Regions from separate parts of the Homo sapiens genome. Here region 1 is linked to region 2. Evidence: fine-mapped QTL for protein levels in blood plasma. A gene starts in region 2. The other region holds a variant in brackets. All regions are shown on one strand. Distances are from middle to middle.

Region 1 (10,790 bases), 310 kb after region 2:
TCTTCACTGGCACTGTCTTGCAGTTACTCGTGATAAGAACTTGGCCTCAGCCAGAAGGCTCTGCCACATCCAGGACTCTTCTTCCCAGACAGAGAGACCCATGGAAGAAGTACCAGACAAGGACTCCTTTTGTTTTCTTCATTCTCCCTGGACTGGCTCATTAACCTTTACTCTCCTTTTTCCTCTTCGTGTTAAATGCTATTTTGTTTACTGTGGAATGTTCAATCTAGAACATGTGTATATTAAGCATACTATTATATATGGTTTGCAATATTGACTGACTTGAAGAATGGCTTGATCCTGTGTGCCTGTGGGCTCTGACTCCTGAGTGAACGAGAAGTCCTGAAGAGGAGGTTATGGCTTTTGTGATTGAAGCAGCATCAATAAAAACCTGACATTGCAGAAAGACAAAAACATGCATGGACCTGGTTGTCTCTAACCTTGCACCACTCATGACCATGTCCCAGAGGCCCCCTTGGGAAAGAATCTCAGAGTCATTACTCAAGTCTCCTCCAAGTGTTTGCCTAGACCAGCTTGATTACCTCCAGTGATGGAGCACACACTATCTGTGCTCTTTGAAGCGATCTGAGAGGTCTCTGGTATTGAGATTCTCCGGGGGAAACAGAAAGCCTGGGGTCAAATTGCCAACATTCGCAGCTAAGTGATAAATCTGGGAATTGTAAGCAGCCAGGAACCTTTAAGAAGGCCTTCATGGAGGGTCTGCAGAAAGGCTCCATGCTACCCCCAGGGGCTTACATGTAGCAGCCCTGTGCACCTCTGGCCAGCCTACACCTAGAAACCGCTGGGTTACAGCCCCAGCTCCAGTACTTCTTAAAGAGGGTGACAAGGGCAGAATGTACAACTTCATATTGGAGATAATTTTTCTCACGTTCCCAGGTGTCTGTAGAGATGGGTCTTGATTAAGGTTTATTATCCTCCTGAGACTGGCAGAGCCACATAAAACACCCACAAGCTTTATTCATGGACTTTCTTCCCTTTATGGCCAGATAAAAAAACAGTCCAATCCTCCCAGCTCCCTAGATGGAGAGAAGGAAAGCCAATCCTAGGGACACCCTCACTGGTTCCAGGAGGCCTGCCTGGGCCTGTCCACATCCCACCCATGAGGCGTCAGCTGCCCACCTTCCCCCTCCCTCAGCCCCCTCTGCTGTCACGTCTCACCTCTCCTGAGTCACCAGAGCTTTAATTTGGGCTAATCTCCACTCCTGACTCAGGTAGGGGTGGTGGTGAAAAATCAAAATGAGGACACAAGCTGTCAGGAATAAGACAAGAGAGACTTGTCAGTCTAATCAACTTTATTAGCAGTGAGTCACAGGAAAGCCTCCAGCAGCTTCCCCCCTTTTCCTTGATGCCTCCCTTTAGTCTCTATGAAGTTGCCAGCAAAGCAGATGCAACCAAGCCAGGGCTCAATTAGCACAGAGGAGGTAGGAGCGGGGGAAGCTGTGTGGCACCCCCAGGGGACAGCACAGACACTGCTGTGATCAGGGCTGGCAGGAGGGAGGTGGCGGCCTGGTTGCTTCAGGTGAGGGGCTGAGGGTCTTCTCCCCCTGGGGAGGGGGAGGCTGTGAGGTTTAGGGACATAGTTTATAACCTCTAGAATTCTGGGGCTGGGAGGGATGGAAAGGCCCCATCTAAGCTAACCCCTTGCTTTGAGCCAGGGAAGGATCTTTAACAAGCCCTCCCCAGACCGGAAGGAGAGCACACATCACAGGACGACGGCCTGGATCCCTGGTAGATTTGCAGCTCCTGGTTCTAGATGTTGCTGAGACCTGGCCCTGAAACTACTTGCCTGGGGGTCTCAGATCTGTGTCCTCATAATGCATCTTCCCTTTTCTGCTGTACAGCAGCTTAAGTGGTTTTGTTTCTTGCAACCAAAGCGGTCTTGATTAAAAGAGTCTGAAACTATGGCATTTTGCAACATGGACCTACTGAATAAGCCTCCAATCTGGATTTTCTCTAAGCCCTAGAACTATATATCTAACTGCCTGGTGGACTTCTCCACTTGGGGTACTATAGGCCCCTAAACTCAATAGCCATTTTACTGTAAATGTCCAAACATTAGAGAGAGTGCTAAAGACCCCCTGAACCACATCCCATCCCCAGTCCCCTCCTTGGAGGGGAGCCCCATTATTGATTGGTTTGCATGAGGCCAGATCTTTTTAAAGGCATGTGCATGTGAACACACGCATATAGATATGTAGATGCATGTTTGTCTGTTTTGTTTACTTAAATGACTTTATAGTCAATATATCATTTGACAACTCACTCTTTTCCTATTCAAGTAAATATCAGCCTTTTAAACTGCTGCATATTATTTTACAAGCTGGATATACCGTAATTAATTTAATTATTCCCTATCACAGGACATTTAGGCTGTATTCTACTTTTATTTTTTTCAGTCACAGAGAGCACTGCAGGGGACTTCCTTGTAAAGACCCTTTGGGACACATGCCAGGGCTTTTTGGGGACAGGCATAGATAGCTGGACTTGCAGCTCCCAAGAAATGGATTCACTTCTGCCCTCCTCACCCACTATCCAGCCCGAGGAACCCAGGGGTCTTTCTTTTCCCTTTCAGCCAATCACCAGTGCTGGCTGGTGATCTCACCTTGCCTTCCGAATTCACAGCTTCTCATCCGTTTCACTGGGCCCGCTCGCCTTCAGACCCACCTACCCCCTGCCTCAACCATCACCATGGCGGTTTCTCACTGGCCAACCCCCAAGTTCAGCCCTGGCCCTGGCTAATCTGCTTCTACTCTTTGATAGAGGAACTTACTGAAAATGTAAACTTGATGGGGTGGTCCACCGCCTAACCACAGGCTCCTCAGCATCCCAAGAAAAGGCCCAAATTCCTCACTGTGGCATGCAAGGCACTTTGTTGTCTTGGACTGTTTTGTGCTGCTGTAACAGAAACCTGAAATTGGGTAATTTATAATTAACATAAATGTATTGGTTCATAATTCTGAAGGCTGGGAAGTTCAAGATCAAGGGGCTGGCAACTGGTAAGGGCCTTCTTGTTGTGTTATCCCATGGCAGAAGGGCAAAGAAAGAGCAAGAGATCAAACTTGCAGCCTCAAACCATTTTATAACCAGCATTAATCCATTCATGAGCGTGGAGCCCGCATGATCTAAACACCTCCCACTGGGCCCTGCCTCTCAACACTGTTGCTTTGGGGATTAAGTTTCCAACACATGCATTTTGGGGTGACCCAAGCCTGGCAGTGGTCCAAGCCTAGCTTCCCAGGCCAGATCATTTCTCTGTCACTTCTGCTGTAACCCTCTAAAAACAGAGAACTGGCTGTAGTCCTCCACTCACCCCCACTCTGCTATTTCTTGACTCGACTTTTGCTCATGCAGTGATTTCTTACACCACTAGACTCAGTTCAGGTGTGACCTCACCCAGAGAGCCATCTCCAAAGCAGAATCAGGTGCCTCTCTCAGGTCCTCTTGAAGCACACTCTGGCCCCTTTCGCATGGCACTTCTCACCCGTATGTTAATTATTCATATATGCATGTATCTGTTCTCCCACCAGACTGTGAGCTCCATATGGATGAGCACTTGATTTCTCCCACCACAGTGTCTGCAGAACACAGAGACAGCTCTGTCTCTCTCTTGATCCATGTGTTTTGGGAGATCTGGCCCCACTTCCTATCTCCATGAAATTTCAGTGTTACCCTGGGTTTTTTTTTGTTTTTTTTTTTGAGACAGAGTCTCTCTCTGTTGCCCAGGCTGGAGTGCAATGATGCGAGCTCAGCTCACTGCAACCTCCACCTCCTGGGTTCAAGCGATTCTCCTGCTTCAGCCTCCCCAATAGCTGGGATTACAGGTGTGTGCCACCATGCCCAGCTAATTTTTGTATTTTTAGTAGAGATGGGGTTTTACCATGTTGGCCAAGCTGGTCTTGAACTCCTGACCTCAAGTAATCCGCCTCGGCCTCCCAAAGTGCTGGGATTACAGGTGTGAGCCATTGCGCCCTGCCTCATCCTGGCTTTTAAGTCAGTCAGTAGGAATGGTCATTAGGTCTGGGACGTTTTGTTCAAACTCTTGGGAAAGAAAGGCTGTCTTCTCAGCTTGACTTGGCATTGTGAGACTATGAAGCTAACGAGACTGCTGCCACCTCACCATCTTCAGGAGTTGGCCCATGTAAGAATGGGAGCCAAGAAAAGAAAAGAATAAATACTGAGTTCTGACGACACCATCTGAGCTCCACAAAACGGGCATCTCTCCTCCATTGGACTTCCCTTTTGTGTAAGCCAATAAATTTCTTTTCATTTTAAGCTGGCTTGAACTGTGTTTTCTGTCACTTGCAGCTGAAACAGGTCAGTAGATGTGCAAAGAAAGGGCATGGATGTCTCAGGCCCCTGTGTGGTCCCCTCGTACATTGAATAGGGCTGACATGTGTGACCAATGGGATATCGCAGAAGTCACTGCATGTCACTTGCAAGACTAGGCCATAAAGAACTTTGCAGCTTCCACCTTGCTCCCTCTGGGGATGCCAGCCATCATGTCATAAACACATTCATTCAGTCCCCCTGGAGGGGCCCAGGGAAGAACTGAGATGTCCACCAAATTGCCAGCCATGTGAGACAGATGCCTTGGAAGCAGATCTCCAGCATCAATCAGGCTTTCAAAAGGCTGCAGCCTCATCAGACACCCTGAGCAAGCACCCCAAATCCCTAACACACAGAAGCTGTTAGAACAATCAATCATTATTGTGGTTTGAAGTCACTACATTTTCGGGTAATTTGTTACACAGCAATGTGTACCTCCCAAATCAGCTGCTCCAACATGGAAACCCTGACCTTCAACATTCCTCAACCTTCAGATGGCACCAAAATTGACCCAGCTTTTCAGACCAATAAAATAAAAACCTAGGCGTCATCCTTGAATTCTTCATTTTTCTTGCACTCCACAGCCAGTTCAAATATTAATCATGTTGGTTTTGCCTCCAAAATACATCCTGAATCCAACCATTTTTCTCTACCTTCACCTCTATAAACCTAGCGCGGCGACCCTAATCTCTCTTGACTGACACAATGGTCTCTGAACTGGTCTCAGCTGTGCTCTTAAATCCATATAAAAGACTCTTCTT[G/A]CAGTGAGAATAATCTTGTGAAAATTCACCACAGATCACATCATACCCCTGTTTGAAACCCTCCAATGGCTTCTCAGCTCCATTTGAATAAAATCCCAACTCCTTACCTGGGATTAAGGCCCTGCACGCTGGCTCCAGCTCCCTTACCAAACTCATCTCTTCTTATCCTCTATTATCCTCTGTGCTGCAGCACAACTGGCCTCTGTCTGCCCTGCAAACATGCAAGGACTGCTGTGGACAGGGTCCCACCTGATCACCCCTTTGGTAGGGCTTCTCACGGCTGTCCCTCATGATCCAGGCCTCAACTCAAATGTCACCACCCCAGACCTGCTTTAGCAGCCTCAACCTCCATTCTAGCCTTGGTTTACTGTCTTCTCCAAGCCATTTATCCTTACCTGAAACAGTATTATTTTTTTCAAAGGTCTTCCCTTCCCCACCCCCTCACTAAAATATAACCTTGGTGAGGGCAGAGGCCTTGTCTTGTTATTCACTGCTATGATTGTATGGCCTAGACCAGTGTCTGCTATATAGCAGGTGTTCAATACATTTTGTTGTCTGAACAGCTGACCAGTGTTCCACAGAATAGTCTTTGGGAAATACTGAGCTAAGTCATCTCAAAGGTCAGTTGCAGCTCCTAAAATGGTGCTGTTTCTTATTCAGCCTGATTCTGCTCTTCCCTTTGCAAAAGATGCATCCAATGGAAGGGAGAAAACTCATCTTCTCTTCGCAACTGGAGTTTTCTCATCATCTAGGTAGGGTGGTTGTGGCTTAGATAAGGCTAGTGGCTTCCTGAAAGCTCCACAGCCAGCCTGTGCCAGGGCTGGGAATCGGAATTCCACTCTGCCAACCCTGAGAAGCTTTGAGGTGGAGGAGAGGAGAACCAAAAGAGTTGGCAGAGCTTGTTTGCTAATGGAAGGGAAGTCACCATGATGCTGATGAAGCCCCAGGGCCCTCACTAACACTGATCCTTTCCAGGGCCCTCACAAGCACTGACCCTTCCCAGGGCCCTCACTCGCACTGACCCTTCCCAGGGCCCTCACTCGCACTGACCCTTCCCAGGGCCCTCACTCGCACTGACCCTTCCCAGGGCCCTCACTCGCACTGACCCTTCCCAGGGCCCTCACTCGCACTGACCCTTCCCAGGGCCCTCACAAGCACTGACCCTTCCCAGGGCCCTCACTCGCACTGACCCTTCCCAGGGCCCTCACATGCACTGACCCTTTTCAGGACCCTCATTCACACTGACCCTTTCCAGGGTCCTCACATGTACTGACCCTTTTCAGGGCCCCAGGAGAGGCACTAGCAATGGGCTCACATGTTCAGATGTTTTTGTACAACCTGCAAAAGCAAGGTATTTGAACCACATCAGCTGACTCCGCTATTTCTTTCCCCGGCCATGTGCTCCTGCCAGGCGATGTTGGGAAAGTGTGGGCATTTGGGGATCTGACTGGGAAGAGGTTGTGTCAGAGTTACATCTAGCATGAACATAAGGGGATATATTTACACAGTTTTCAATTGATCTCATGGAGACTTTAGCTTTTGCCAGCTGTTCTGGTGTAGGCATGACTTCCAGGAATATCTCTACTCGCTCCCTTTGTGTCATGACATGAAGAAACAAGGCCAGAGGTCACATCATGAGATGAACAGGCCCAAATGCACTCGACCCCAGAAAAGAGTGAGAAAGTGTAGGTCCTAGAAGCTAGTCTGTGGCTTGTGCCCCTAATCCTCAGACATGTGCAATGGGAAATGAAGAAGCTGGCTTTTGCTGATGCCTCATCAAAATGGAAGTTTTTTTCTGCAAAAGGATCTTTCTAATTTCCCTATAGACACATAATCATTGTCATGGGAAGAGGCAATCAAAGAGTATAAAGCCAATACATAGAGAGAATTTGGAAAATATTTTAGAGGTGTGTCAGCAGTTAATGAATACAAACGTCATGCTATTTTTTGGATTTTCTGATGTTTGTGGTGCCCATCTGTGGTGCTGTATAGCTTTCAGGAAGCCACTAGCACTATCTAAGTCAGCTTTTAAACTGTTTTTTTCATTATTTCTTTTTTTTTTTGCTCTAAATCAATATTCACTTTCATATCTAATTTCGTGTTCTTTTTTCTTAAAGAGGATCCCACAATTGGACAAGCTTCCCCTTGGAGCCTACATCCACACCTGATTATCAGCAGGGACTCGGGCTGTGATGAGAAGCAGGGGTGGCGTCCTGGGCCCAGAGGTCTGTTCTGGCCAAAAAGAGATGAGTCTTTCCCTGCACAGGCTAGAACAGCTGCTGTCCCCTCCTCCAGCACTGAAACCCTGGTTCCCTCCAGCCTTCATTTTGGGCTGAAGGCCAAATGATTTCCTGTGTTTTCTTTGTTTATCAGCTCTCTATTATCATGATGGCAAGAGCCACCCACTCAATAAAGCAAAGTAAACAAACTCCCACAAACCGACAAACAGCTTTGAGTGTGCAGCCCCGATTTGATTTCCTAATTAACAAGCCATTCTCAGCCAATCAGACGATGTGCATGTCATCCCATTTGGATTTGTGGGCAAACCAATGATTCCTGGGCTTCAAGCCATTGCTCTATGGAGGGGAGGGGGCTACTGGGGAGGGACCACCTCATGGCAGTTGCTACACTCATTCCTGGGCTTCCTTGTCCCTCCTCCCCGTCCCTCCTTCATCTGTCTACACAGAGTTAGCGGGCTTGCAGGGCTGTTTCCAGACCGCTGGGTCCAAGGCAATGGGGTGAAGCCCCTTTCCTTTGTGGCATCACAGCTCTTGCTTTTCCTCTTGTTCCATCTGCTGGTGCCAAGGCCCTCCTGGCGAGTAAGCCCCATGATGAGTTCTGTTAGTGCACAAAGACAACCGCTCATGGCAGTGAGATCCGGTGCCCTGGCTGCTCTTTCCAGAGCCTTCTTAGAGGGGGCTGAATAACAAAATTCAGGGACCCCCATGAGCGAAGGAAAGGTATCTCACCTTCCCAGAAGGCACATGGATGCTCCCAACCACTCACTTGCTCTCCTCCCCATCACAACTATCTGCTGTCACCAGTTCTGCATTCTGGCAAGTGGCTCTCCATCCCTGGGCCTTGGTCTCCCCATCCATGAAAAGGAGCAGTGGGAGAAGCGTGAGGCCCTGTAGGATGGCCCTCACACCAAGCCTGGCTGGCAGGTGTGCTGAGTGCTCTACACAATACTTGTCTTATTTTTATATTTGATTTAGTTGTCTACATTTTAAAAATGGAGAGAGTCATTATTTTTAAAATGTATATTTCAGGATTAAAAAAAATACTCAGAAGATCTGGCATCATTGAGTATATGTTCCCTTGTGACAAACAAGAAGAGAAGCAGCTGCCTTGAAGAGAAGAGACTGGGGTGCTCCAGTTCCCCCCAGTTGCCACCACTCCCTATTGCTCTACCCAGTCCACCTCACTTGTGTAGGTTATTTGTGGGATCCCTGAAGGCATGCACATTTGTAAGGATGGCCCTTTTTGTTTAATAGATTGTGGTTTTAATTCCACAGTTCATTCCTTCTGCAGATGATGAGCTTATTCCACAGGTATTTATTGAGCCTCTCTTGTGTTCCTTGTGTTTTACTAAGCACTGAGGAATGCTTAAATGGGGTGAAAGGCATGGCCCCTACCCTTAGAGAACTGTGAGTTTAGCTGCAGGCATATGAGGACCTGGATGAGAATTCATGACCTTGGAGGAGGCCTTCCTACCTAGTGAGAGGAGATAAGGCCCAGTTTAAACTCCTCCTCCCGCTTGTTCCTGTATAATAGCAAGACTACATTTACATGGCACCTCACAGTTTCAGGACACTTTCCTATCTATTAAGTCTGAGTCCTGACCACAACTCAGAGAGGCAGAGATTATTTCCAGATACTCCCAGATGCCAAGAGACTTCCTGCATTCTCTACCAGTTGTGTTTTTAACACTCAGCACAAACACAACCAGACATCATTTTAAAACTTGGCATCTGCCATTCTGAATGATTGGATGCTGTGCCCACCACAGCCTTTGCCAGGAATATCCCTGGTCCATAGCCTAAAGAGATACTGGAGAGGTGTCTTTCTCACTCAAAGACAGAACAAAGACCCCCCTTCTTCTATGCACGGCACATGCCTTCTAATTCCCTATGTCAGCTTGTACCATCCACAAGCACTGTGAAGGGCAACAGCCAATCCCAGCCTGTTCATCTTCCTGTGGTCCAGCAAGCATCCCTCTTGGCCAGCCCTCCCCGAGGGCTTACCTGTGGAGGGACAATTCCATCCCCCTCACACTTTGGACTGACCACAGAATAAGCGTCCAGGGTCATTTTAAATGAGAGTCTTCTAGTTCTGCAGAAATGAGAAAACAAATCCTAAGGAACAAGAGGACATGTGGGGCCAGAGTGCATAGATCTAAAGTCCTTCTCCCTCTGAGGACAGGACCCTGAGTTCTCTTTCTAAGGCTCCACGGCAAGGGTCATAAGCCTGTCTCACCCTCGATGACTGTGCCTCAAAGGCATGAGTGGTGTTGATGACTGATGAGCCCCTGACAGGCAGCCAAGGGCACTGCAAGCCCAGCCCCCATCTTCATGACATCTAAGCTGCTCCATTGGTAACAAGCTTCTCCCTGGTTAAAAGTAATAAATCTCCTCTGATTTAAGTGACAGCTTGTTGGGATTGTTTCCTTGGGCTTTGACATAAAGAAGAAATTTAAATCCAACATAATCTGGACTGAAATAATGATGTTAGCTCTGAAGGCTGAGATGGTTCAAGCAGGACAAGGCATAGGAGATAGACCCTTTTAGGGACTCAGCGAGGCCCTCATCATGCCTCGATGGATGCATGGAGGGTAGGGTTAAGTTCCACTAAGGCCTGCATTGTGCTGTCCTATTCTTCACCCTTCCTTCCTTCCTTCTTTTCTTCCTTCCTACCTTCCTTCCTTCCTTCCTCCCTCTTTTCCTCCCTCCCTCCCTCCTTCCTTCCTCCCTGGGTCTTGTTCTGTCACCCAGGCTGGAGTACAGTGGTATGATCATAGCTCACTGCAGCCTCGAACGCCTGGGCTCAAGCAATCCTCTCACTTCAGCCTCTCAAGTAGTTGGAACTGGAACTGCAGATCCGCAACACCACACCTGGTTAATTTTTTTGTTTTTTGTTTTGTAGAGACAAGTTCTCCCTATGTTGCCTAAGCTAGTCTCAAGCTCCTGGCTTCAAGCAATCCTCCTGCCTCAGCCTCCAAAAGTGTTGGAATCACAGGCCTGAGCCACTGGCACCAGGCCATGCTTCACTTATACCTGCATGCTCCTCACCTCCACTTAGGTGCCTGGGACCACCTTCACTGCCACCCCAAACTGAGCTGCCTTAATCAGCACCCAAGATAGCAGATCTTTTCTCTCCCATCCCCTCACCCAAACTGATCCATCCCATCTGAGGGACACACATGGACTCACTCCCAGGTGCTAAAGCTGAAGTTGACCACAGAGCCTTTACTGAAATGAGGCACATATTTCCAAATCCTTCCTCACCCTTCCCGCATAATATGAGCCTAGAAATGGCCAGGCTGGGACCCCAGAGAGATGGGAAGAGACAAGGTAAGGCAGGGAGGTCTCACCAAGCCAGGGACCACAGTGGGCAATGAAGGATACTAAGGTCAAAGGAGGCACCAAGCCTGAGGTCTTACCCTGTTCGTGATGCCTGGTAGGT
Region 2 (10,790 bases):
ATGGAGAAGGAGGAAGGAGTGTTACTGGAATGAGAGCTTGAGTCCAGGGGAGGAGGATGGGCTGCTGAGGAGGCGACACCATCCTGAAAGAAGAATCCTCTGCCAGAGGCTTTTCAGGGTCATTTCTTCACACTCTCTGCAGGGAAGCACGGAGACAGCAGGAAGAAATATCCTAACCTCACTCTCTTCCCTCTACAGGTGCTTCCATTGGCCAAATCCACCCAGAGGCCAGTTGGTGGCGATCAGCTTCCAGGGGCAAGAGGAGGGAAGAGGAGGGCAGAGACTGGCTTCAGGGGTGGGGGAGCATGCACATTAGGGGCTCAGTTGTTCAAGTACCTGTCACTGAGGCCTAATGAGGGTGGGAAGACCAAGCATGCTCCTCTGATGTAATTTCTAAGAAATCTACCAGAATTAACATTTGTGGATTTTTCCATTTAATGAATTTTTAAAAAAATACCCGCCCTCTCAGCCCCATTTCTCATTTATTTACCTCTCTTCAAGTGGTATTTAAATTTCTTCTTTCATTTTCCTTCTGGTAACAAAGAAGTCTGTGGCTCAAAAGATGTTTCTCTAAGACCCCATCCTATTAGGTCTCTGAGCTGTGGGAAGTATTTATACAATTGCTTGTGAATATAAGATCCAGGAATTTCCCTAAGATCCCTAACAAAATTGGTGATAAGTAGTCCCACATGTTAATCCAGCCACCCACGGATGACAGCACTTACCATTTCTTTGATAAATGTCAAATGCATTTGAAGTACCTACCTGAAATATTTGTTTAAATGCTATCTAATCTATTAATTTTATATATGTGTGAGTCTGTTTTGTATACCTTCTGATTATAGGATAAATGTAAATAAATCCAAAGAGTAATCAAAGCTACCACTTTCAAGAAGCCTTCTTTGTAGAACCGGAAGAGTCTTAAATAGGCTTTTCAGGTATGCATCTCTTATTATCGCTGAACTCCAAGTCCTGCAAGGCAGGCATCATGTGTGGGTCACCTTTACAGTAGGCACAGGCCTTAAAACAGTGACATGCACATTGCAGGCACTCCATAAATGTTTGCTGAATTGGCTAAACCTTGGTTTGTTCCCATAATCAACCACCACAAACAGCACACAGATAATTACTTCTTGGAAAGATTCCAACTAGTGTTTGATGTTACCTACGTGGTTTTTCTCTCAAGATCTTAAGAGCAGCTCTGTAGGATTACATTATTTTCTGTTTTTTTTTTCCTTTGACCTTAATGTCATCTACTTCAATAACAGCTTCATACAAAATTCCTACCAGCACATACCACAGCAGATTCAAGGCCTTGTTTTAAAAATGGTGCCAGCTTCTCTTAATTTGGAAGATATATTGTCTCTCCTGAACATGGGCTAAGAAAATGTATAATTTGGTATTAACATAAGAGCTGAAGACACTTTAAATGCATTGTTTCATTTTTATAAGATAAAAAAAATTTTAAGAATCAAAATGTTATCAACAGACTTGTCCTTCATTAAAAAGTAAAACTGCATTTGCCTACATTTTATGAAAGTGTCCAATTATGAACAATTTTGAAATGTAACTTTTAAAAATGTAAACAGCAAAAATGTTGTATTTAAAATAAATCTGGAAAGGCAGAAAAACAAAAAATACCCAGAAGACAGAGTTTTTGGTGAAAGTTAAGATATTTCATCTTTGAACAACTTAGAATCTTTCCTGCATTTTATAGTCTAGTTCCAGGCATTAATTTGAAATAACCTTGGAATCCTAAATCTAACACCCTTCGGAACAAAGTAGCTTTTCTCTTCTGCTTTATGAGCAAATGGACTAAATACTAGGGAATGGTACTGTCTGGGCCTTTGAACCAAGATTGAAAGAGATGAAATCCTATATGATATGTATAAACATTAGAGAATCCATTTTGATTTAATAAAAGGTTGAATTTGTTCTATATCCTGTGAGAAAATGGTTCCCTTTTCCTGAAAATGTTACCTCATTCCAACAATAGAAAGTTGGTTTTTTTCCAGGGTGTGGTGTTGGCGGGGGACAGAGTTGCCATGAATATGGCATCTATGAAGACTGCTGTTATATTCATTTCTCAAAATGCACTGTGGTAGGAAATTCAGAACGCAGTGAGAGAAAATAAATGTTTGACTTCAAAATATAAGGCCGCATTTAAAGCAGAAGGTAAAGTATAGAACAGTTGACAGTATAAATTCTTTATCTGCAATCTTGCAGTTCCCTAAATCTCTGTAACACATCACTTTTAAAAGCCTCAGATAAGTGGTTCTATAATAATTTACCAATAATTCAACCCCTCAAAAGTCTTAGCAAGTTAAACCTTATAATCTTACATTTTAGAAATGACCCAACTTGATCCTTTTATTCTTCAGAATATCTCTCTCAAATTTTCATTTGTTTTTCATTAATTGATGAATAATGAGACATTTTAGGTACCTGTCCACAAAGAAATGAAATTTTCACTTTCCAGGAACCTAACAAATGAAAAGATAGAAATCAATTCCAACAGAATATTACCAAAGAAATCTTTTAGAATGGACTGTTAAAATTATTTATTTGTATTTATCTGGCTCTACTATTTGTGGTACATTTCCACTTCAAAGCTAAACCTCAAATAACATCATAGTGAGTGGTTGACTTCATGTTTAACTGAGATCTTGAAGACTGAAAAAGACCACGACAAACACACATCTATTTTCTTGGCTACTGCATCCGTGTTCATCACCATTCTGATAGTCTGCAATGTATTGCAGCTCACCCTTTGGGAAGGACTAAAGTAGACATCTGTTTGTTCTGCTTACTCAGCATTCCTACCCTAATTTTCCTTTGGAGAACCCCTTTATTCTAGACCACGTGAAGCTAATGCCAAACCCCATTCCAGGGGATGCACCTGAATCCAACCTCCATCATCTAAACAGTGCCTTCTCCACGTTCAGAGAAGAGCAAGTGACTCAAACTGCCCTCATAAGAACAGACCTGGGACTTCTGCTGCAAATATTGAAGAGTAAGTACTCTTTTTTCTTGCTAGGACTAAGCTGGTAGTACCTTCTATGAGGCTATCATATGGAAACAACTTGTCTGAAAATGAAGCCACAACTAGAAAACAGATCCTGGTAACCCGGATTGATGGATCCAGCCCTACCTTAAATGGCAAGACCTAACCCGAGGCTTTTTGCATCAACCAATAAAGTCCTTAAGCCAGTTTGAGTTGGTTTTGTCACTTGCAGCTAAAAGAATTCTGACTCTAACAATGTGACAATAGCAAAAATAAACATAACTGCTTTTGAGGTTTCTAATGGATTTTCCTCCCTATATACATGATTTCATTTAATCCTCACAATTCAGGAAAGCACATATCTATTAACATTAAATTAATATTCATTATTTTGAACACATGCTATGTGGATAAGGGATGAGGAAAGCCAAGGAAGTAATCAACGTGAAATCTCACTTATATGGGAGGGAAGTGGAGGTTACATATCTCAGGGCACTTAACAGATATCATCAAATGAAAGAATAAACAGTGTGTGGGAGAGGCAGTAGGTGATTCTTCATCAATTCCTGGATGAAAAATTAGGAGATAATGAACTCCGAACAGGCAGCCTAATGAGAATGGCTCAAGCAACAGGACATAGAGAGGGAGTTAGGTTAGACATGGGGTTCTTGGGAATTTTCACCTCGTGGGGGGGCGGGGGGGTCGTGCAGCTGTTGTCAGTGGGAAAGGGAAAAAGGAAAAGGCTGAGTTTGGAAGGCAGGGAGGGAGGAGACAATGTGAGTCAGTGAAAAAGGGCCCTTAGAATGACAAGTCTGGACCAGAGAGAGGCTAAGACTGAAAATACAAGTTGGGTAACCACTGGCATACAGATGGCAGTTCAGGCTTGGGCACTGCCCACCAGAGCCTCAGCATGAAGAGAAGAGGGGGAGGCTGGCCACCACCTCCCTCTAGGTAATCGTCATCCTGATGCTGAGCTCCTGAAAACAGGCTCTTTCACTCGCCCCATCTCTTGCTCTTGATTGCAACCCGGCATTCAGGAGGCACCCTGTAATATCTGTGGAGTGACCGACAACACAGCGCCAGGGCACTGAGAAGATCCCAGGGCGCCAGGGACTGGTTCTACAAGGGTGCCCCTCCCGGTCCCCTCCAGCGCGCCGCCAGAGCTGCCAGTCTTGGCTGCTACACGGGAGGCAGCCTCATTATGCAGCTCTCACCTCTTAAATTAGTTCATGCTCTCACATTAGGTGTAATCACAGCTTGCAACGCTTTCTGGGGATGTCTCAGAAAGATCTGAGTTGAAAAAATATTTTTGTGTCATTTTAATTTAAAGTAAAATTGCTGCTTCTTCCCCGCCCCTTTCTTTCCTCCTGGCCCACCCAGCGACCCTGGCCGGCCGTGCTCAACGGGGGCGGGGGTCGGAGGTGAGATTTCCTCCACATAATTCCTTAAACAGCTATCAACTAAGTCTCAAAGAAAAAAAAAAGAGATCTAGAAGCAGAGACGTGGCTGCTGGCGATCCCAAAGCTGGTGTTCGCTCTTGGGGGAGAGCGTACCCTGGGGGAGGCCGGGAGGCCGGGCCAGAGGCTAGCCCAGAGGCAGAGGGCAGGAGCGCTCAGCCGGCGCCCCGCGTCTCTCCAGCTCCCGACGCTGCGCTGGCTCCGCTGAGCACGCCAGGATCAAGGTCGCCTGGTGGGGACCGGAGCGCCAGGAGCCTGTGGGAAGCGTTCCAGCCGGCCTCTGACTGGGATCCGGCGCCGCGTTTCTGCTTTGGACTTGACTGACAGGTCCCCCCGCCCTCCCGCCGCCCTACTACCAGCCTGGGTTCATCCTTCAGGGCTACGTCTACCGCACCCGGGCTGGAAAGCCTGGAGCGCGCCCTTCCTCTCCTCATCTTCTCAGCTCTCCTTTCTCCCTGCCACTTGGCAAAGCTGCATTTTGACTTTCACGTTTTGGACTACGTGTGTGTAGTTCCAAGTCCATGCGTGGCACGAAAATCCACTTAGGGTAAAAATTATTCTCGAAAAATCGCCCATCTCAGGATCTGGTGTCTACACTCAAGGCTAGGAGGTGCAGGTACGGGTGCGTAAAGCATGCCGTAAGGGTGCACAGTAAATAAAAAGTACGGATGCAAAATGTAAATTTTAAGTGCAAAACAGAAAAGCAGTACTCGTTGCCGCCCCGCACGCTGGGTTTTAAGGGGCACGAAGGTGGGCCTCGGCTGCTTTTGCTCAGCCCCGCGTCCTCAGCGCCCGGCCCAGTACCCGGTACTCCGTAGGGGTTCAATGATCTCCCCTGAATAAGTGAACGAATTAACAAATGAATGAATGACCGCTCGATCCGACCTCCGCGGCCGGCAGAGCAGTCGCTGGAGAGGCGGGAGAGAGCGAGAGGCCAAGCTCCACCATCGCGGCCGCCGGCTGGGGCAGAGGGACACGGAGACACTCGGCGCCCCGGCTCCGCACCGAGTCCCCGCGGTGAGTGCCCGCCCAGCAGCTCCCGGGCACCACGTGCGCCCGCCAGAGCCGCGCAGGCCCCGCCCCGCCGCGCGCGCACGCGCCCTGCACCCCGGCCGCCGGGACCCTGAGCCAGGCTCGCCCAGCGCGCCGGCTGCCCTCGCGCCCGCGCCCGCTGGGGGGCGCTCCCCTCCCAACGGGCGCGCCCACAGGCGGGCAGGCGACTCGCAGCCTCCAGCGATTCCACTCCCGACCCCGGGGCGCGCCGCCTCCTACCTGAGGGCCGACGAGTGGGGGCGGGCAGGAGGGCCGAGGGAGGCGGAACAGGATCGAGGCGCGAGGCGGGAGTCGAGAAAGCGAGCGGCCGAGGCGACTCTCAGTGCGCGGACGCGGGCGCGCGCCCGCGCTCCCTTCGTCGACTCACGGCGAGAGCCCAACCCTGCTGCCGCGCGCCACCCGCCTCGCCGCGCCTAATAACAACGGCGCCCGGGGTCAGGTGGCCGAGCGCGGACAGCGCCGCCATTGGCTCGGTGGGGAGCGCGGCGCGTCAGGATTGGCTGGGGGGCGTGGCCTCGGCCGGGGCGGGGGCAGGGCCTCGGAGGGAGGCGGGCCGGGAGGCGGCGGGGGCGGGGCCAGGCCGAGGTCCGCGCCTTTGTGCCCGGCGCGCGCTCTCCGCCCGCTCCGGCTGCAGCGCCGGCTGCATCAATAATTCAGAGCGGCGGCGGCGGCGGCAGCGGCGGGTGCGGGCAGGAGGCGGCGGCAGCAGCGGGACCGAGCAGCAGCGGCTATGCATCCAAGTGCGGCTGGGCAGCCGCGGCACCCCTGAGGCCCGGGAGGGGCTCCGGGAACACAGCGCGGAGGGGACGCTAGTCGCGGAGGGGACGCTAGTCCCGGAGTGCGAGGAAGAGGTGTAGTGTCCAGAGCGGCGGCGGCGGAGCTGCGCACGGAGCTGAGGAGGGGGCTTCGGAGCGGGACTGGGACGGGGGGGGCGGCTGGCGCGAGCAGCCCTGGGGGTGGGGGGCGGGGTGGGCGCCGGCGGCGCGATGCTGGGCGTCCTGGAGCTGCTGCTGCTGGGGGCTGCGTGGCTGGCGGGCCCGGCCCGCGGGCAGAATGAGACGGAGCCCATCGTGCTGGAGGGCAAGTGCCTGGTGGTGTGCGACTCCAACCCCACGTCCGACCCCACGGGCACTGCCCTGGGCATCTCTGTGCGCTCTGGCAGCGCCAAGGTGGCTTTCTCTGCCATCAGGAGCACCAACCACGAGCCGTCCGAGATGAGTAATCGCACCATGATCATCTACTTCGACCAGGTGAGTGTTCCTTCCTCCCGCGGCGTGCAGATTGGGCTGGTGAAGGAGGGATGGATGGAAGACCGATGCCCGGTCCTCTCCAAGGGCTCTGCGGAGGCGCGGGGACGACAGTCCGGGACCGATTCCTGCCCACTCCCCTTCGTTCCCGTCTCGTTATAGGTACTAGTGAACATTGGGAACAACTTTGATTCAGAACGCAGCACTTTCATCGCCCCGCGCAAAGGGATCTACAGTTTTAACTTCCACGTGGTAAAAGTCTACAACAGACAAACCATACAGGTCAGCCGACGCCTCGTGCCGGGCCCTGGCCCCGTAGGGGGGTTACTGGCCTCAGGGGTGCTCGGGCTGTCCGGAGGTGGTAGGCAGAAGTGGCGGCTGCATGTACTTCGGGCTGCTTGGAGGGACAGATAGCGGGGCCTCTCAGTTCTGTGGCTTCAACTGTCCTCTGCTTTCCCTGTCTCTGGCTCTTGGGATCCAGCCCCATCCCCCGAGAGACAGAATTTTCTGCTTCTGCCTTCCGGGCCTCTCCGAAGGGTTCCCTGGATTTCAGGGACTTCCTTGTAACGGCTGTTGTTAGCGCCCCAGACAGCTGCCGCTTGGGAAGCCTTCCCGGACTCCCCAGGAAGCACCGCGACAGTACACCCTACCCCTTGCCCCGGCTCAGAAGCCTGCGATGCGGCTTGCGTGCTTGTCTTCAGCACCACGGACGGGGCCCCCGTTTTCTCCCACTTGTCCCCAATCCCCACCCCGTGCGGACTGTGGGTTTTTGAGCTAGCAGCATTTAGCCCCGGAGGGTGAGGGGTAGAGAGAGGAGGGAGGGAGGGGGCGTAGTGCTACTCTCTCCCGGCTCCAGCCGTGTCCCAGCAATCACTCGCCGGCTCTCCGGGTCCCCAAAGATGTCCAGGTTTCCCTTGGGCGCCGAGAGAGGTGGGACGCACAGCTGGGGAGAGGGCGCGAGGCCCTTGGCTGACGGTGCCACCACAGGGGCAAAACCAGGCGGTGGCGGGCGCGGCTGGATGGGGGAGGGAATTGAGCCCGTGGTTTGGGGAGGAAATACATTGTGCCGCTCGGTGCGAGACTTCTAATCACAAATCACAGTGGCTTCTCCACTGTGTCCTGGCAGCTGGGTCCAGGAGGGATCAGGGGCTTTTTGTTTGTTCGTTTTTGTTTTTCCGGTAGCGCCAGAAGGAGCCTGAGTTGCTGGGTTTTTTTTGTTTGTTGTTTGTTTTTTGAGGCTGAGGGGAAACGGGAGAGAGGTCAAAGGTCTCAGGGCGCTAGAGCCACCTCATGGGTTTATTAAATTGGATCACAGAGCACAGTCGAGATTCGCTTGGCGCGCTCATTTGAGAAACTGGAATAAGAGCAACTCCCGTTTTGGGGACAGGCCCTTCCTGTCACCCAGATGTGTGGTCTTTCGCCCCACTGGAGCCTCAGCAGTAAGCTGCAAAGCCCCTTTTCCTCCATTCGCCCCCCCCACCCCCCACCTCTCCGTGCTTCCAGGCCTTACAGGCTGTTAGCCAAGCAAGGAGGAGGTTCGCTCCACCGCGGCTTCGGTGCCTGCCTAGGTTGCGCCTCTGAAGCGGGCCTTTCTCTTTCTCAGGTGAGCCTCATGCTAAACGGGTGGCCGGTGATTTCAGCCTTCGCTGGTGACCAGGACGTGACCCGGGAGGCCGCCAGCAACGGAGTCCTAATCCAAATGGAGAAAGGCGACCGAGCATACCTCAAGCTGGAGCGGGGAAACTTGATGGGGGGCTGGAAGTACTCGACCTTCTCCGGATTCCTGGTGTTTCCTCTCTGACTGGCTCGTAGCCGGAAGGGAGGCAGGGAGAGGGCGAAGGCAGGAAGGGGAGTGAGAAAGAGGCTGAAATTAAGAGGGCGAGAAAGCAGCACGACTTGAAACTTCCTACATGTTCTCTAACTGTATCTGGGTAAAAAGGTGCGCGCCAGCTGTGGGACAACTTTGTCCATTTCCTTATTAGGAGAAATAAATTTCGCTTAGCTCTGCGCACTCCCATTTCCAAAAATAAACTCGCCTCCCCCATTCCAGTTGCAGTAATCAAGAAAGAGACTGCCTTGTCATTGTTTCTTATCCCCCAACTTCATGTTCCCTGCAATTTATTTAAAGAAACTTTGTATTTCACTACATAATCTGAAATCTTTCTCCCTAGCCCCCTCTGAATCCTTCTGCCTACTGAAATCTGATATATTACACACCCCCAACCTTTTTTTTTTCAGTTTGGAAAGGGGTAAAGTTTTGTTGTTGTTGTTGTTTTGTTTTGGATGGGGAAGGTAGTTTTAATTTGGCAAGTGTTGCTCTTCTTAAAACACTGCTCAAATTAATTAGCTGAAGATACTTAGTATCCTCGGCTGCTTGTTAGCAGAGAAAGGACTCACCTTAGTGGTGACTGGTTTAAAAAATATAAATATATATCATTTGTATACGAAGAACTCTTCCCAGTGGAAACTGGCTGTGTTTCCGTATTTCTATGTTCTATTCGGAGTGATCGTGAAATCTAAGGCTGCTTGATGTTCTGATGCTTGTCAATGCCGTCGTGCTCTGTGACTCCACGAAACGCCAAGGAGCTTCTTCCGGACGCCTCCTCTTCCTCTGTAACATACGTGTGAATAGTCAAGGTTTAATTTTGCTTTAATCTAATAAAGTCGAAGTGGGACTTTTATTTTTCTGAAACAGCTTTCTAAAATCCGCATCTTCCCCAGCTGCGAGGTTGGGGGTCTGGGGTGCCAAAGGGCGAGGTTCCGAAAGGCAGGAGACTTGGGGGAACGCAACCATAGAAAGGCCTGGGCGCGAGGGCTTCCTTGCAAAGCCGGCCTTGCGCTCCTTCCTGCGCCAGGCCGGGGACCAGCACTGCATTCGCCTGTGTTCACAGCTTTGGCGGAAACGTAAGAAATGTGGCCGAAATCTTGCTAGGCCAGGCGCGGCCGCCGGCCCAGGAGCGAAGTTTGATTTTTTTCTTTGCATTCCAAATGCATCAGGAATAGTCCCAGTTTGAGGACCCAAACGACCCTGCCTGGAGCGGCAGACTCCTCAGGCCTTCTGTCCCCGGATGTCTCCCACCGCGTCCCCCTCGCAGTTCCCGAAGCAGCGTATGTTTTATACACCGCCTCTGAATCCGGAGTCCACCCGCCGCATACTCGGGCGCCCAGGACCTATGATTCCGCTCATTCACAGGACTTTATTCAAGAGGTTCGTCCAGGAGTTTTGATTGTATCGGAACATAATGTGAAAGCAAAAATGAAATAAACGACTTCGTTTTAAGTCTGAAAGGCTGACCCAGTTGCTTCGGCAGCGGGGAGGTCGGGAGCCGGAGCGAGTGGGCAGCCTAGGGCGAAGGGCCGGGAGCTGGGAGCTGCAGCCGGGTGGTCCCCTGCAGTTGTGGTTCCTTTCAGAGAAACGTTTTCCTGGCCCAATATTCAGGAATGAATTTTATTTCCTCTAGGGGCGTGGGGAGAAGGGAAAGTTAATAATAGCACAATAAACAACGTTTCTCGGATTTATCCCAGCGGCTGGTTCGAGTTAGAAATTCACGGAGCACGGGGCCTCTGTTGAAACCCGGGCCCGTTTCTTCTCCGCATGCAATCCGGTAAGCCGTGGAGCAGCTCTAGCGGGCGCCCTTGCAGCCCTGTGCCTCCGGGACCCACAGAGATAGATAGGGACTTCGCGAGTGAGGAGTGGACCCGAGTACTTTTCTGTTTCTGCCCAACAGTTTCCCTTCTACTCTGTTAGGCCCCAGGGAAGTGTGAATGAGAAGAAATAAGGGGCCTTAAAGGGATTTAAAGAAAAACTGCTTTTAATAAAGAGACGCGCTTTCTCCGAAGTCTCCTGGTTGGGAAGGAGAGGTCGGAGACAGTTGGAGCCTTTGGCAGCGAAACTAGCTCCACCCAGCAGCTCTGCCGTTGCAGGGCCAGCCCTCCGGGCTTGTGGAGACCCTATAGTCAGTAGGGTGCGTGTAAGCTTGAGGCTGTAGGGCCGCGAAGGTTGGAGAGCCACCGCTCAAGGAAGCTGCC

The links. PIP is the posterior inclusion probability: the model's chance that the variant is causal. Protein levels are from the aptamer-based SomaScan assay of Sun 2018.
Region 1: its variant is fine-mapped to the plasma level of the CBLN1 protein (Sun 2018, PIP 0.95).

What each region holds. Positions count from the first base shown.
Region 1 is chr16:48,962,317-48,973,106 of GRCh38, reverse strand. No RefSeq gene overlaps it. Among named protein-coding and RNA genes, the nearest start is that of CBLN1, 310 kb to the left of the region's middle. RefSeq lists an enhancer at 8,615-9,814. The variant G/A (reference allele first, on the strand shown) is at 5,109.
Region 2 is chr16:49,277,176-49,287,965 of GRCh38, reverse strand. It overlaps CBLN1 (cerebellin 1 precursor), which reads left to right and starts at 6,128. Exons shown (of 3, transcript NM_004352.4): 1 at 6,128-6,764; 2 at 6,924-7,043; 3 at 8,365-10,049. The coding sequence starts at 6,501. The coding sequence ends at 8,562. SYNAGE (synapse stability regulating cerebellar lncRNA) reads right to left here and starts at 5,904. Exons shown (of 4, transcript XR_933530.4): 1 at 5,734-5,904; 2 at 491-599; 3 at 1-246. RefSeq lists silencers at 5,475-5,574, 5,945-6,054 and enhancers at 6,407-7,024, 9,102-9,626, 9,627-10,153.